Regions from separate parts of the Homo sapiens genome. Here all the other regions are reported to be linked to region 1. The links are microRNA targets in miRTarBase. Many come from high-throughput screens and were not tested one by one. Region 1 holds a microRNA gene; each other region holds the end of a gene's coding sequence. Distances are between the middles of the regions.

Region 1 (3,197 bases):
CATGCCCCCCACCCACCCGATGCCCATGAACTACGGTGAGTCCTGGAAGGGCAGATGGAAGGTGGGTGGGAGGGACAGCACTTGGAGCAGATGAGGCCACCGCCTCCTGCCCCTTTTCTCTTCTAGTTTCCCTTAAATCCCTTTCTCATCTTCTCTGTTGAGATCTCTCCCTCTGTTTCTGTCTTTGTTACCCTCCACTTTTTGCCTCAGCAACTGGCCCCCAGCCACTTGCTGCCCCCTTTGTTCAAGGAGATCCATGAGGCATGTCCCAGAACGTACACACCACAGGAGAATGGGGCTGGGCCAAGTAATGACTCCTGAGGGGTTACCTCAGGGCACCAGCTCTGTTTCCCAACAAGCGGCCAACAAGCTGCTGCCACCTCCCAGACCTGTCGACTTCCTTAGGAACTCCTTTGGGAACCTGAACCACTTTCCTCATCCTTTAAAGTGAAATCTGACTTTTGCAAAAGACATTTGGAGCCAAGTTTGGTAAACATCATGGCAGGGACATGCTTGTGTTTGGTCAGAAATGAGGTGAGGCCGGCCGCGGTGGCTCACGCCTGTAATCCCAGCACTCTGGGAGGCTGAGGCGAGCAGATCACCTGAGGTCAGGAATTCGAGACCAGCCTGGCCAACATGGCAAAACCCCATCTCCACTAAAAATACAAAAACTTAGCCGGGTGTGGTGGCGTGCACCTGTAATCCCAGCTACTCAGGAGGCTGAGGCAGGAGAATCGCTTGCAATCCCAGGAGGTGGAGGTTGCAGTGAGCCAGGATCGCACTACTGCACTTCAGCCTGAGCAACAGAGCAAGACTCTGTCTCAAAAAAAAAACCAAAAAAAAAACAAAAAACAAAACAAAACAAAAAAAGAGGCCGGGTACGGTGGCTCATGCCTGTAATCTCAACACTTTGGGAGGCTGAGATGGGCGGATCACGAGTTTGAGACCAGCCTGGCCAACATGGTGAAACCCTGTCTCTACCAAAAATACAAAAAATGAGCCGGGCGTGGTGGCATGCGTCTGTAATCCCAGCTACTCAGGAGGCTAAGGCAGGAGAATTGCTTGAACCCGGGAGGTGGAGGTTGCGGTGAGCCGAGATCACGCCTTTGCACTCCAGCTTGGGCAACAAGACCGAAACTCCATCTCAAAAAAAAAAAAAAAAAAAAAAAGGAAATGAGGTGAAGTTAGAGTGCAGTGAGTCTTCCTGGGTGGCTCAAGCGTGGATTTTAAAAGTAGTTCCCAAAGAGGCATTCAGGCATTCAGGCATTCAGGGAATGTTTGCAGCCCTGCAGCATCTCTGAACCCCAGAGGGGTGTCAGCCAGCTCTCACCTGGACATGTGCGCTGGTGCGGATCTGCGCATGGGTCCTGCACAGTCACGCACACCCTTTGCACACCTGCCTCTGTGAGGCTGATGCAGATCCCTGTCTTCACCTCTATCCCTGCTGCTGCACAAACTGCGCTCTGCCGCCCTCCTTTTCTCCTACCCTCTGTCCCCATCCCCTGTTCTGCCCTGGCTGGCTGCCCCAGTGGATGCCCATACCTGCTCCTGCCTGGCTTCCCCACTACATCGTGACCCCCCAGTGAACCCCCAGTGGCGTGGGCTGGGCACACAGGAGCCCTCCACAGATGCACGTGAGGAACGTTTCCCACCTAAGCCCCCTCGTGACAGGCCGGCTCTGGGTCACTCTGAGGGTGTCTAGAAGACCCCAGCTTGGGAGAAGAGTTCCTGTTATAACACTTGTCTTTTGGCTGGAGATCCCTGAGACTTTGAGATTGTCAGGGAGGCTTTGGGATTGACGCCACATGTCTCAGGTCCCCAGCTGAGTCAAGTGTCATCTGTCCCTAGGCCCAGGCCATGGCTATGATGGGGAGGAGAGAGCAGTGAGTGATAGCTTCGGGCCTGGAGAGTGGGATGACCGGAAAGTGCGACACACTTTTATCCGAAAGGTAAGATACGCGCTGGGAGGTGGGTGTACCTGGGGCCCCTCAGGCTGTGGGAATGGGAAGTGGGTAGGCCACAGTAGCCCCAGGGCATCAATTCCATGAAATACACTGGCTGCCTGTCTTCTCTAGCCTTGTCTGCTTCTCAGAGGGGCACCTGGCTTCTCTAACCCCAGGGTTCCCTCTCTTTTTGCACCTCTCTTCTTGACCATGTTTTGGGAGGACACATTCAGTCTGGGAGAATCTCCTAGGTGGGTTCTGCCACAGCGCCCGCCTTCCCCAGACATCTTTCTCCCTTTAGACTATAGGCAGCTTGGAGCCAGAAATGATCCTACTCGCTTGTAACCCACCCTCTCCATCTCACAGCTGCATAGAGCGTGCAGACTGAGCTGCTGGGAGTGCAGAGGCCATACTGGTAGAGTATGGTGGCCAGGCAGGGCAAGTCAGTAGTCACCGAGGCTGGTGTTGGACAGGAGGGGAGATGGCAGGGAGCATGGGAGCGGGGCTGAGGAAGAAGTGCACATTGCCTCTGAGCCAGGCATCTCACTGGGGTCGCCTCTGGGCCAGGCTGCAGCTAGGGAGGGTTCTTGAGTGGGAGGAAAGTACTGGGGGCTGGCAGCTTCCTGGGGCAGGCCAGGGGTGCCGGATGGTGACCCATGCCCGGCCGTCTGTGTCCAGGTTTACTCCATCATCTCCGTGCAGCTGCTCATCACTGTGGCCATCATTGCTATCTTCACCTTTGTGTAAGTCTCTAGGCTTTGCCACCCACTCCTACTGCCCTGGGGGTTCAGGGTCACCTGCTGGGGGTGTGGGTGGCGGTGGGCCCTGCTCTCAGGGTGACCATGGGCAATTAGAGAAGGTGAAGCCAGGGCTGCCTGGCTGGCCTGGGTGGGGCAGACAAGCCTCAGGGTGACTACTCCTGTCCTCCTGTGCCCCACAGGGAACCTGTCAGCGCCTTTGTGAGGAGAAATGTGGCTGTCTACTACGTGTCCTAGTGAGTGTGTGCTCCTCTGTGGTTGGGCAGGGAGGCAGGGGTGGCAGCTTCTGTTTCTAGGTGACCAGCTTTGCTCAGGGCAGGATCAAAATGCTTTTTGAGAGGGCCCCCAAGTTGGTGCCAGTTTCCCGTGCCAGAGGGTGTGGGTGTGCGTGCCCAGATGAGTAGCAGACCCCTAGAACTCGAGAGCAAGAGTGGGACCTGCTGGTGGTGGCGTGCACGCTGCGCTGCAGCCCCCATGTCCTCTCAGCCCGTCAGCT
Region 2 (3,000 bases), 120 Mb from region 1:
TTTTTACTGTTTTCCCCAGAGCCTGTCACATGAGGTCAGGTGTGGAACGTTGCAGTTGTGGTGTCATGTCCGTGCTCAAAAAGTTTCAGATTGTAGAGCATTTTGGATTTCAGATTTTTAGATTAGGGATGATCAATCTACAGTACAGATGCTCCTTGACTTACAGTGGGTTTACATGATAATGTCTCTTGTTTGACTGAAACATTATAAGTAATATTTGATTTATTTCAGATGCTGCAGGTGTTTGAGAGCTAGATGAAGGTATGTTGCCAAAATTTATGAATTAAATTCAAATCATTGATTTCTGAAATAAACTCTAAGTAGTGAACGGTATTCCCTCTCAATTGCTTGGTTAATAAATGCTACATTAAATATTTTTTCTTACACACATCTAGTGAAAGATGTGAAAACATAAACATTCATAGTGAAGGGTATACTTATGCTTTGTTAATTCATCATGTTTCATAGCTTTAAAAAAATCGCAAGAAATCTGTGTATCCCTTTTTTTCTGGCCCTACACTTTTCTTCTGCCACCCCTATAGACTATCAGCCTGCACACTGAAACTGTTCTCACAAAACAAAGGCATTATCAACTTCTCAAGGTTAAGGTAGTGATTTAAGGCTAACAGACCCCACACTCATGTGATAATAATTAGTTAAGCAATTACAGGTCACAAGCAGTCACTTGACCAGTGACATTTTAAATCTCTAGTCATTGACTTTGTCATTGGTTTACTTTTGCCCCTGGGAAAAGTTGAAAATTCCTTAGCATGGAATCAAAACTCTCACATCAGTGTGGTTCTTGTCAAGTTATTCAGCCTTATCTTTCGCCACTTACCATACTCTACACCTTTGTTCTAGCATCCAGCCAAACTAGACTACATGGAGCTCCACAGTGATCGTCTTCACCTCCAGCTGTTTGCATTTACTTCTTCCCTCTATCCTACATGTGTTTTCCTTCCCCTTCAGATATCAACCTATGAATTGCCTCTACCAAAAAGCCTACAATATTGACACAAACCTGGGCTAGTATCCCTTCTATGTCTTCCAATAAGTGCTGTCTTATGCTTGTCATTGTATGTATGACTCTGTATGGGAATTGCCTGTTTGTTTTTTCAGATTATAGCATACAGTTGTTGAGGGGCGGACCGTATCATCTTTATCTTGTAATTCCAGTGCTTGTCCTAGTACCTTAGCACATGGTTGCTGAATACATGAACGAAGAGTGAGAAACCAGAAGCTCTGATACTTAACTGCCATGATAATGAATTCGGTGTGCAACTATGGGCAAATTATATTTAATAGTAATTGCATATTGTACATATTTTTCATTCTTATTAACACTGATAAGCTTTTCAGCATATACTGACTTTCTCTTAGTTAACTGTGAAATCATTTAGATAAAGAATATAATTCTTTTTCATTCTAACTTCTGAATTTAAATCTGAATCCTCTATAGCAGGGGTCCCCAACTCCCAGGCCACACACAGTTCCATGACCTGTTAGGAAGCAGGCTGCACAGCAGGAGGTGAGTGGCAGGCAAGCGAGTGAAGCTTCATCTGTATTTCCAGCCACTCCCTGTTGCTCACATTATCACCTGAGCTCTGCCTCCTGTCAGATCAGCAAAGCCATTAGATTCTCACAGGAGTGAAAATCCTACTGTGAACTGCTCGTTCAAGGGATCTAGGTCACATGCTCCTTATGAGACTCTAATGCCTGATGATATGTCATTGTCTCCTATCTCTTCACGATGGGACCATCTAGTTACAGAAAAACAAGCTCAGGACTCCCATTGATTCTCCATTATGATGAGTTGTGTAATTATTTCATTATGTATTACAATGTAGTCATAATAGGAATAAAGTGCACAATAGATGTAATACGCTTGAATCACCATCCTGAAACCATCCCCCAAACCCCCATCTGTGGAAAAATTATCTTTCACAAAACTGCTGCCTGGTGCCAAAAAGGCTGGGGACTGCTGCTCTATAGCTTCTGCACTAGAATCTACTAATGAGTAAAATTTAAATCAATAACTAGTTTTAAAAGCATAACAAGAATATGTGCTGTCTGGCTGCAGTGGCTCATGCCTGTATTCTCAGCACTTTGGGAGGCCAGTGCAGGTGGATCACTTGAGGTCAGGAGTTCAAGACCAGCCTGGCCAATATGGTGAAATCCTGTCTCTACTAAAAATACAAAAATTAGCTGGGTGTGGTGGTGCATGCCTGTAGTCTCAGCTACTCGGGAGGCTGAGGTGGGAGAATCACTTGAACCCGGGAGGCAGAGGTTTCAGTGAGCCAAGATCGTGCCACTGCACTCCAGCCTGAGCAACAGAGTGACTCCATCTCAAATGCAAAACAAAACAGAAAGAATACATGCTGACGAAAAAAATCTAAGACAATAAAATTGTATTACTAGGCTGTTAACATGATATTTTGTTTCCCGTTAAATGTGTGACATGCAAAAGTATTTATTAAATGAAAATATTTTTTATCTTTTATGTCTGATGAAAATTTATATCGTGTTTTAAATGATGTTTCTTGGCCTCTTTAACTTTTTATTTTTTTATTATTTTTTTTTTGAGACGGAGTCTGGCTCTGTCACCCAGGCTGCAGTGCAGTGGCGAGATCTTGGCTCACTGCAAGCTCCGCCTTCTGGGTTCACGCGGTTCTCCTGCCTCAACCTCCCGAGTAGCTGCGACTACAGGTGCCCAGCTAGTTTTTTTTTGTATTTTTAGTAGAGATGGAGTTTCTCCCTGTTAGCCAGGATGGTCTCCATCTCCTGACCTTGTGATCTGCCCACCTCGGCCACCCAAAGTGCTGGGATTACAGGTGTGAGCCACTGCACCGAGCCTGAAAATCTTACTACCTAAATAACTTCCCACTCCACTCACACCCACAATCTTTCTATAATCCACATTCTCTCCTGAGACAAGAGCTTGGGAAGTTCCGTCTTGCTGAGGGAACTTTATATTGTTCAGGAATTCTTTAATAAGGTTTT
Region 3 (3,000 bases), not on the chromosome of region 1:
GGTATGTACTACAGTTGCGACTTGGTAAATTGCTTGAACTAATATCTCCATGGCTTAGATTTGTATTTGTCACTTCATGCTGCCAATGAATCCCGTCAGCTGGGAGCTCTCTCATAGGTACATCTTTTGGGCCACCTTCTGTGGTCCCTAAACCATTCTTTATGGAGCCAAATCTCTGACTTCCCAGTGATAGCTGTTTAAGCTTTGGTTATATTTCTTTGTATTTTTCTTTCCACATTCACCCAAATAGATTAATTATTACGTACCTTTCTTACTTTGTCCTGTCTGCTAGTGATAACACTGTCTATACTGGAGCATTCATGCCTGCTTCATAGGCAGGGCAAGGCATTTATAAACCACTGTGTGCAGGGCACAGAGGCTCAGATAATCTGTTACTTAAATAATAAAATGAAACAAGAAGCATTTTTGGAAAATCCTGAAAACAATTTAATTGCTCTAAAATAATTTACATGTGGTATATCTTCCATCTTGAGATTTTAGGAAGTCAGTATTCCCCAGTGAAGACACATATTACATAAATGATCAACTACCTAAGGATATCTCATTTGTATTTAAGATTCTTTGGGCACAACTGCAAGCGGAAAGGACTCTATCCCATGGACACAGGGTGTTTCTCCCCACCCTGGGCAGCTGGGCTTCAGGGAGGATGAAAATGGACCCAGGACGCAGGTGGCCTCTCTTTGGTTCTCATCTCTTTCTGCAGATCAGCGTTCTGTTTCTCAGATCCATGTGCTGGAATGTGGCTGCCCCACAGCTCCCAGGCGTACACAGATTCCCCTTTCAGCAGTCAACTTGCCTTTCTTTTTTTTCTTTTCTTTTTCTTTCTTTTGAGACAGAGTCTTGCTCTGTTGCCCAGGCTTGCGTGCAGTGGCATGATCTCAGCTCACTGCAACCTCCGCCTCCTAGGTTCAAGTGATTCTCCTGCCTCAGCCTCCCAAGTAGCTGGGATTACAGGCACGTGCCACCACGCCTGGCTAATTTTTTTGTATTTTTAGTAGAGACGGGGTTGCTTTTCTATTCCCAAGTCCAAAAGCCTATGAAGAGGGCCAGCGCAATGGCTCATACCTGTAATCCTAGCACTTTGGGTGGCCAAGACAGGAGGACTGCTTGAGGCCTCACGTCAAGTTCAACATCAGCGTGGGCAACAAAGTGAGACCCTGTCTCTACATAAAAGTAAAATCAAAAGTCTCTGGAGAGAATTGTGTTGGTCCAGCTCGGGTTAGTTGTCCATTCAACCGGTGATACAGGCAGAGTTGGGGAGTCATGGCTTCTGAAGCCCACAGTATCGACTGGGAGCAGGTCTCAGAGAAGCAAGAATCACTGTGAGCAAGGAGTTGCTTCAAATTAATAGCCTTACAAATCTATTAGAATACATCGATGGCAGAGAGCTTCTAGGGTAGAAGTTTGTACATGCAGGCCAAGGGGAACTAGAGAGGCTGACAAGACATATCTCTGGGGAGAGTACCGTAGCTTTCACCAGTGTTAAAGGGGACCCCAAACCTTGCATTAACAACCTTTAAGCCAGCACATGTGCGTGCATGCGTGCACACACACACGTAACTCGTTTTTTATAATACACAACCATCCTATTAACATGAGCTAAACAATCTAAACCATTTAGTTGTTGGGTAGTACAGAGTTATAGAGGACTGTCTGATATAACAAAATGTGGTTAAAGAAGAACTGAGAAATCTAACCTTTCATAATAAACAGCCATGAATCCAGCTCTAAGTACATTATATTTTATAAGACCTGATGATTTAAACAGATTAAATTATAAAAAACAACAATTGCCAAACTCAGAGAAAACTTAAAGAAAAATTTATTCTTAGAATTTGGGAATGTTTGTTCCATATAGATTGTTTAATTAAAATGTATTTGTTTCTTGATTCTGTTACAGATTGTTTAATTAAAATTTGTTTCTTGATTCTGTTATATACATGGAGAAACCATGTGAAAAGGGATGCTAGGATCTGAGTAAAAGACAAGGGTTTATAGTAAAAACTAATCTTTTATATAACTTTTGGGACCACCTTGAACCCTACTGAAATGTTATAGTTCTTCAACAATTCTAAATTTCATAAAGAATGTCAGGCCAGGTGCAGTGGCTCACGCCTGTAATCCCAGCACTTTGGGAGGCCGAGGTGGGTAGATCACCTGAGGTCAGGAGCTCGAGATCAGCCTGACCAACATGGTGAAACCCTGTCTCTACTAAAAATACAAAAAATTAGCTGGGCGTGGTGGCGCACACCTGTAATCCCAGCTACTCAGGAGGCTGAGGCAGGAGAATCACCTGAACCTGGGAGGCAGAGGTTGCAGTGAGCTGAGATTGCACCATTGCACTCCAGGTTGGGCAACAAGAACGAAACTCCATCTCAAAAAAATAAAACAAAATAAATGCCAGTTTTTCTGTGTGTATTATATTTAATATGCATTGCATTTTGAAATATTTTTTTAATTGTACAGGTAACACATGCTGATTGGTAAAATATCTTGCAATCTGCAAGACACATAGGCATAATCTTTCACATCATAATCTCCTCTCCAAAGGAGCTACTTTAAAAGTTTAGTTACATCTTTTTCTTCTAAAACTTTTTTAGAAAAAGTAAATGGCTTTACTAAAAAGCCATTTTTAGTAAAGATCTATCATATGATTTATAAACAATTTTAAAAATTCATCCATTACATTTTCAGGCTTTAGCATAATTTTCAATTCCTCAAAAACATGTCAGTGTGATTTTATTTTATCTATGTCTCATTTACTTTTCTGTAAGTAGATATAACTTTTCAAAAAGACAGTCAATTCCCCAACTTTTATGTCGTTCTTCAAAAGCATCAACCTTCTCAAGACAACGTATATTGCATATTTTACCTGAAACAAGAAAGAGTAACATGTTAAAATACTATGAAGAATGACATCAGGGATTCTTTTAAAAATACTCAAAATTGGCTGGGTGCGGTGGCTCACACCTGTAATCC

Evidence for each region. The annotated mature microRNA hsa-miR-6513-3p reads UCAAGUGUCAUCUGUCCCUAG and lies in region 1 at 1,828-1,848, shown strand. An mRNA with a match to its seed (bases 2 to 7 or 8) in the 3' UTR can be bound and repressed. Matches are read on the target gene's strand: a 7mer-m8 pairs with bases 2 to 8, a 7mer-A1 pairs with bases 2 to 7 and ends in A, and an 8mer does both.
Region 2: the mRNA of ANKRD36 is a reported target of hsa-miR-6513-3p. The part of its 3' UTR that is shown has no 7-base or 8-base seed match.
Region 3: miRTarBase lists TPMT as a target of hsa-miR-6513-3p. Seed matches in the 3' UTR shown: 7mer-A1 at 930-936.

What each region holds. Positions count from the first base shown.
Region 1 is chr2:218,278,778-218,281,974 of GRCh38, reverse strand. MIR6513 (microRNA 6513) reads left to right here and starts at 1,787; the gene lies at 1,787-1,850. All of the region lies in intron 2 of PNKD (PNKD metallo-beta-lactamase domain containing), which reads right to left. TMBIM1 (transmembrane BAX inhibitor motif containing 1) reads left to right here. Exons shown (of 12, transcript NM_022152.6): 2 at 1-35; 3 at 1,849-1,949; 4 at 2,622-2,686; 5 at 2,884-2,937.
Region 2 is chr2:97,249,913-97,252,912 of GRCh38, forward strand. ANKRD36 (ankyrin repeat domain 36) reads left to right here. Exons shown (of 76, transcript NM_001354587.1): 75 at 232-261. The coding sequence ends at 255. Among named protein-coding and RNA genes, the nearest start is that of ANKRD36, 140 kb to the left of the region's middle.
Region 3 is chr6:18,127,888-18,130,887 of GRCh38, forward strand. It overlaps TPMT (thiopurine S-methyltransferase), which reads right to left. Exons shown (of 9, transcript NM_000367.5): 9 at 424-2,893. The coding sequence ends at 2,781. Among named protein-coding and RNA genes, the nearest start is that of NHLRC1, 6.7 kb to the left of the region's middle.